Homo sapiens: one gene and its partner. The protein of the gene in region 1 interacts with the protein of each later gene in a pairwise test. Each region holds a gene or a part of one and is shown on either strand. Other genes may lie near its edges. The genes, in order: NPC1 and MC4R.

Region 1 (3,822 bases):
ACCGTGAACGCTCTGGTTATGTGGCTGCAGAACTCCACGGAGATGCCACAGCTCTGAAATAAAGCACTTCCTTTAGGATGGCTCTCTTCCTGTTGAAGACCCTAGGCAGCCACCCCGTTCTGAGGATGGGTGCTAATTACCCAGGGCACCCTGGGTGCTAGAGGAGGCCAAGCATCCCATTGGACTTACAAGGCCTCCATCACACCAATCTTACTGTACCAGGAACTTTTTGGGGCCCTCTCTACACACAGCCAAAAGCCTGGTTTTCTGTGGCACGTTTGTGTTGACCAGGAGAAATTGCTGGAACCCGTTAAGGTCACCCCACCCGCACCGAGCTGGCGCATTGTCACAACTTCTTTTCTTGGACCTCAGTGCTCCCCTATCTGAAGCAGGGCTCATATCTGAGAGTACGGATACACTGTTCTATTTTCCATGAATACCTTCTCAAGTGCTCTCATCTTTAATGATTAAAAGTACCTGATAACCACATAGGAGGCAAAAGGCACTGGTCGGAGAGCTCCTGGGGCGGGGTGCAATTTTCTAAGTAAAAAGTGAACATCCTGCTGTCATCAGGCTACAGGCTTGTGCAATCTCTAAAGAATAACAAATTACAGGCAGACTAGCCCAGAACTAGGCCAGGAAATCACATTTCCATGGTCAGAGGCACCATCAGGTATACTAGTATAGCCGCAAGGAATGGGACAAGAGAAAAAATTGAACAGAAATTGCCTGTAATGTGCCTATGCTCCCAGATGTCCAACTCAATGCTCGCTCCCTCTATGCCCTGTCCCACCACCATCCAGCACTCCTCCAGCACTCATCCTGCCTCTCCATGTGTGCCAAGAGCAAGCGCCAGACTTGGTATCTTACTCCATCTTTAGGGTTTACATGGAATCTAAGACAGCCAATTCCCCCAAGTGAAACAGGAGCTAGGGACAAACTGAGACTGTATGAGGACTCACCATCACCAGGTTGACCAAGGATACAGCGTTCAGACTGATGCCCCAGAGCCACATAACTCCAAACATGTTGACCAAGACCATGGCGATGGTGGCACACATGATGACTGCAGACCAGAGCTCACAGCCCAGGAGGACCATGGTCACCAGAAATATCGCGCCCAGGGACACACCGAGGTTGAAGATAGTGTCGTCAATGATGGTCAGGTACTGTTCGTAGAAGACATAAAACACACTGGAGGGGAGAGGGGAGGCCTCATTAAAGCTCGCTCTCACTCCCGAACACTGCGTGTTCATCCTGTCACCACTGCCAAGTGGTCAGACTCCTTTGGGAAACATCCCTTGCAGAAAACCTTGCTGGCTGTCTACAAGACTCACCGAAAGCAACTCACTTGACCTCTCATGGCCACTGACCACCCAGAGAAGGGCCCAGCAGTGATGCAAAATGTATATTTTTGATAAAGTTTCTGTTTATAAGCCCAATCTATGCTATTTTATAGACATTTACAGAGAGCATTCCACAGCATTCTGAAAAAACACAAAAAAACAAAGAATCCTGATCTATCCTGAGACACTACCTCAGGCTCAGCGGGGTCCGTGCAAGGCCTGAGGAAAACATGCTTTCATTTATTTTCTGCCAGAGCTAACCGGCTCTTAACTTCTTCCAAACAAATCCAGGCCTTCCTGCTTTAAGCGAGATCATGGGGAGGCAGGAAAAATAAATCACTTGTTTCTCCTACCTTTCTACAGTTTCTAAATTCAGTAGTTCATACATAATACTTTTCTTCCTGGGAAAAAAAACCCCTAACAATATAAAAAGTCTACATACAGGCAGCATCCCAAATAACCAGCAGTTAGGGATTCTGGTTCATTGTTGGCCAAGAATGTGGGCCGGGCCCTGCTCTGAGCCGCCTGCTCTCCAAGCGCCCCCTGCCTTAAGCCATTTTCCAGTGTGTGTCTCTTGCAGCTGTGCAGTGGCGCAGAGATCAAGTTTTGCGTCTCTAGCCCTCAGGCCTTCACAGAGACTTTAGATTCTGAACTCCTTTGCCCAGCACCCATTTCCTTTGATATACTGCCCTGTGCTCAGAATGGAGCAGGGGCCAGAACCCAACCTGAAAATCAGCATCTTGCCAAGGGAACCCTCCCCACTCCCACCCAGTGTAGGCCCTTTGCTGGGTAAACCCCATTGAAAAAGGGCAGGCTTTACCTGTAAGGAAATACTCGGTAGGCACTGCCGTTAATGCCCATGGTTTCGGTGACATTACTGGCTATAAGTCGGGCTTTCTTCAGAGCGTCAATAAAGTCAGCAGAGGTCTGCAGCACGGTGTGGTAGGTCATGAAGTACGTGGCTCCGACCCTGGTGCCATGGCCAAGGAGGATGTTAACTGCAGAACTATAGGCAGCATGTCCCCTGAGGAAAGAATCCTGGGTGTCAAGAGAGTCCAGGTCTTGCAAAATATCAGCAGAATCTGAGCACTTGAGGCTAAGCAAAATCACCTGACCCTGGACTCAGAGGTCAGACCCAGCTGTACATTTCAGGGATGAAGAAGGCCCCCAGATAAGGGAACACCAAAGGTTTAGCTTGTTCTCTCCCAGACTGGCTTCTTTTTTTTTTTATTTTGAGACAGAGTCTTGCTCTGTAGCCCAGGCTGGAGTGCAGTGGCGTGATCTCGGCTCACTGCAACCTCCACCTCCCGGGTTCAAGCAATTCTCCCTGCCTCAGCCTCCCGAATAGCTGGGATTACAGGCACCTGCCACCACGCTCAACTAACTTTTGTATTTTTTTAGTAGAGACAGGGTTTTGCCATGTTGGCCTGGCTAGTCTTGAACTCCTGAGGTGATCTCAGGTGATCCGCCCACCTCGGCCTCCAAAAGTACTGGGATTACAGGTGTGAGCCACTTCGCCTGGCCAGATGGGCTTTTCTCGATTGCTCTGGGTTCTTTGGTACATAGCTGCTGTTTCTCCACCTGGTTTCATGTATAATCAAAGGTACAGGGTTTACTCAGTCCTGTTGTGTAATAGGAAGCAGGAAAGGGCAAGGGCCCTGGGAACAACCTCAGCCCTGCCACTTACTGGTCATGTAACCCCGAGCAAAATGACCACCTCTGAGCCCCAGTCTCCTCTTCTGTAAATGGGTATACCACCACCTACTCATAGGCTGCGTGATGAGAAATGGAATAATGTCAGGGAGTGCCTGGCATGACGCTGGCACCCTGGAGGCTCCCCAGGAACGGTGGCTACTGCCTTCAGAAAAACTGAATCTACTTCAACTTATTTTACGTAGGCCAAAGCATCCAGTCAGTGAGTAAATCAAGCTGCAAGATTCATTTCTACTTAACTTTTAGGAGGAGTCATCCCATGATACCTCGAATAGGTCTCAAAGCACATGCATGATATAAATGATTCACTGATATGACTCTGGTCAGATGTATGTTCTTATGAAAAACCTAAGTTCAGGGTTTACCTAACATACATGGGGATACTCATCTTCCACCTCCCAAAGCTTCCAAATCAAGGCCAGAGACTTCCGGTCATCATCACTATTTTTGGGCCATATATCTGGCTTCCGTGGGTAACTGGCTGCCTGGCTGGATGGGGGAGTGAGATAGCCCATAACCCTATACATGGATGGGCTGGCAAGGAGCATGACGAGGCTAAAAGAATCGCAACCTTAATGTGGGATAATGTTACTAAAGCTAAGATCACGCCCCAGCTGCCATCAGTACAAGTGAACAGGCCAAGTTCCTTCAGGCCTGGATTACCAGCAGGCCGTCCTCTCCCTCAGCCCCGCTTGGAATGTGCACAGGAATCTGCGTTCATTCTCATGCCCAGGGGGCCAGGACACAGAGAGAGCATGAGATG
Region 2 (3,682 bases), about 37 Mb from region 1:
CTGAATCCTTGTTTAAAGGGGGCATAAATCCCCATTCTCTGTTTTATTAATATTGTTTAGGGATAATTTGGTAACAGGAAATTTAGCTTGACATGGCAACTTAGGTTTTCCAGGACACTTTCATCCCTATAGCTGCCTTTTCCCACCCACCCCAAACCGAATTGCCTGTGTGAAATATCAGGCTGTTTGCTAAGGGAGATGAATCTTTCTGTGTCTGAGAAGTACACATAGTTTTCTAACTCAGCATCTCTCTTTTTTCAGCACCTGTTTTTCTCTCTAGAGGAGCTTCATTTCTACTTCTGCACAGGGAGGATGAACAAACCTTTAATTAAATTACTTGAAATTTCAGTGATGATATTTTTAAAAATGATTATACATCTATTCTTTAAATATTTTCCCTTAACTGCTAGAATGAACTCTCTACATTTCAATGGTGGATAATATAATATAATAAAGCATTTATTAGAATATGTTTAATGAGGCTCTGATTTCTATGTTACGAAAGCACGCAAAGTGTCCAATGCTTATGAATAACACGAAGGAGACATTGTTAAGCTTTTAATAAGGACTTTTCTTTTTGTAAATCCACAGTGCCTACAACCTATAACATAGATTCATATTTTATGGCCAAAAAAGTAGCATGACATTGGAAATAATACAGAGACTGGGCATTTTTTCTCATTAAAAATCATAGGCTTAAATTTACACAATGGATATTCTCAACCAGTACCCTACACGGAAGAGAAAGCTGTTGCAGAAGTACAATATTCAGGTAGGGTAAGAGTGAAAAAGTCTCTTATGCATGTTCCTATATTGCGTGCTCTGTCCCCATTTAATATCTGCTAGACAAGTCACAAAGGCCTCCCAGGGGATAGCAACAGATGATCTCTTTGAAGGTTTTCCTCAGTTCTTGACTCCGGAGTGCATAAATCAGAGGATCGATGATTGAATTACACATGATCAGTATGAGATACAAGTTAAAGTGAGACATGAAGCACACACAATATGGATTCTGAGGACAAGAGATGTAGAATATTAAGTGGAGGAAGAATGGGGCCCAGCAGACAACAAAGACGCCAATCAGGATGGTCAAGGTAATCGCTCCCTTCATATTGGCACCTTGGCGGATGGCACCAGTGCCGGGGAGGACAGCAATCCTCTTAATGTGAAGCCTGGCCATCAGGAACATGTGGACATAGAGAGAAGCCATGAGAGCCAGCATGGTGAAGAACATGGTGATGAGGCAGATGATGACAGCACTACTATCTGAGTAAATGATGAACAAAATGCCTGAAACCGTGCAAGCTGCCCAGATACAACTTATGATGATCCCAACCCGCTTAACTGTCATAATGTTATGGTACTGGAGAGCATAGAAGATAGTAAAGTACCTGTCCACTGCAATTGAAAGCAGGCTGCAAATGGATGCAAGCAAGGAGCTACAGATCACCGAGTCAATGACATTATCAATATTCACTGTGAAACTCTGTGCATCCGTATCTGTACTGTTTAATAGGGTGATGACAATGGTTTCTGATCCATTTGAAACGCTCACCAGCATATCAGCCACAGCCAAGCTGCAGATGAAAAAGTACATGGGTGAATGCAGATTCTTGTTCTTGGCTATTGCCACAATCACTAAGATATTCTCCAACAAGCTGATGACACCCAGAGTCACAAACACCTCAGGAGAGACAAAAAGTTGCTCGTAGCACCCTCCATCAGAGTAGCCTTTTCCAAGGGACTCACTGGCATTGCTGTGCAGTCTGTAACTGCTGCGGTTCCAGAGGTGCAGAGAAGTGTGCATCCCACGGTGGGTGGAGTTCACCATGCTGGCAGGAGAATTCCAGTGTCCCCCTGAATTGATTTAACCTCCTGGGTCAGGGAGTCGTCTCAGTTATTTCCTCCAAGTCTTTATCTGTCTGAAAGTTGTGAGGCTAAAATTGCCATGCCTGCTGTGAGTAAATGTCACAAGTCCAGAGCTTGACATGGAGTTTTTAGTCTCTTTTAGGTACGACTCTAATCATCATCACTTTAAAATCTTGGGCTTCAAAATATTCATTCTCAGTTGAAAGAGTCTGCTCTTTGCTTTCTTGTTCTCACTTCTGCTTTAACTTTAATCTTATGCATTCAAGTCTGTTCAAAATAATTTTCCTTGAAGCTGCCATGCCATTGGGAGACGAATCTGTGCGCACATGCTCACATCGGCTGCCTCTCGGAAGCTTCTGTTTCCAGCCTGAGCGTTGCTTTGAGTGTTAGGGGCTGTAGGCGCCAGCTGCTGATTTTTATGATGTGTGGAGAGAAAAAAAACATGTTCACGGTGGCTCCTCCTCTGCTTCCTTCTGACCAATCCCAATGCAATGGGAGTCTGTGAGACAGGATTATGTTTCAGAGACACAAATTGCAGGGTGACACAGATTCAGATGCAGAAGCTCCTGAAGTCTGAAGTCGAGAAGCAAGCCGGATAAGAGACTGAATTTCCCTTTTTAAGTTTTCAAGGGAAACAACTTGATCCCTAGAGGCCATTCTGTGATATCAAAACAAGCTATCTTCAGGCAGCCAGGTTCATTCTTATGTAAAAGACATCATGTGTGTGTGTAAAATGAAATGGAAAGTATACTGTCTTATGTTCCTGAAACAGATACTCTGCTTTTTGGCTAGGATACTGAATTTATTTACCTTCTTAATTTTTTGTTTTTATTAAGAACCCAGCCAGTAGTGGTTCAGTTAAAATACCTGAAAAACAGAGAGGATATTTAATGATACAGATAGACATGGTATGGCTGGAAGAACTATGTAGGTAGCTATAAATTATGAATGGGTTCAAAAGGGGTTGATTTTAATGCACTAATATCCCATATTTCTCTATTGAGGAGTTTGTGTTATAGCTGAAAAAAGGTGCTTTTTATTTACAATATTTTAAACTCATACGGCATTAATGTAACTATGCTTACACTGAACTCAGGAAAATAATAAGCTGCATTCTGTTTTTTTTTTTTAAGCAACTTTTTTTTAAACCTCCAGAGTTTAACGTATCGTAAGTTGAACCGACAAATACCTAGTAACTTTACTTATCAAGCCAAGACTGGTGATACTAGTTAGTTATTGAAGTTTCTGAATATTTTGCTTAAGGTGGTTTGAAAGATGGCAGCAAAGTTACTTTCCAAATTAACTGAACAACAGATTATACAAAATTTTGTATATTCTTTTCTTCTATGATTATTTTTGGTTTTAGTGCTCTATAGTTTGTAGCTGCTTATTTCAGGGTTAATTCTGAATCTCAGTTACTTAGGTTGGGAATGTATCCTCTTTCCTTTTGTGACAGAGACAATACTAAGTATTGTTCCTGAGCATTGAGATAAATTAACGTCTTCCATCCACCTTTGGAATTGGGTAGGACCTTATGACTAAATTCTAGCTAATGGCATGTTGACAGTGGGGCTCATCGCATTAGCTCTTTCATAATTTTACACAAGTTTTCTCTCCTGTCTTTGAAATCTCATGTTACAGGTGGCAGGACCATATCATGAAAGGAGCCTGTCTCTTGAATGATTGCACAGAGCAGAACTCACACCTCCAACTCCCTTCCCCTGTATTTCTGAATGCCTAATCATCTGTATATTGTAAAATGCTGGAATGGGCTTTCCTGAACATCATGAGCTGGAAATAATCTTACCTTCCT

The links.
Region 2: the proteins of NPC1 (region 1) and MC4R interact in a two-hybrid assay, tested with the Homo sapiens proteins (one large-scale study listed by BioGRID and IntAct).

What each region holds. Positions count from the first base shown.
Region 1 is NC_000018.10:23,534,507-23,538,328, forward strand, and holds part of NPC1 (NPC intracellular cholesterol transporter 1 precursor), read right to left. Parts: intron 2,371-3,822; coding exon 2,167-2,370; intron 1,195-2,166; coding exon 963-1,194; intron 54-962; coding exon 1-53. UniProt on the Homo sapiens protein: Intracellular cholesterol transporter which acts in concert with NPC2 and plays an important role in the egress of cholesterol from the endosomal/lysosomal compartment.
Region 2 is NC_000018.10:60,370,519-60,374,200, forward strand, and holds MC4R (melanocortin receptor 4), read right to left. Parts: upstream 2,258-3,682; 5' UTR 1,832-2,257; coding exon 833-1,831; 3' UTR 544-832; downstream 1-543.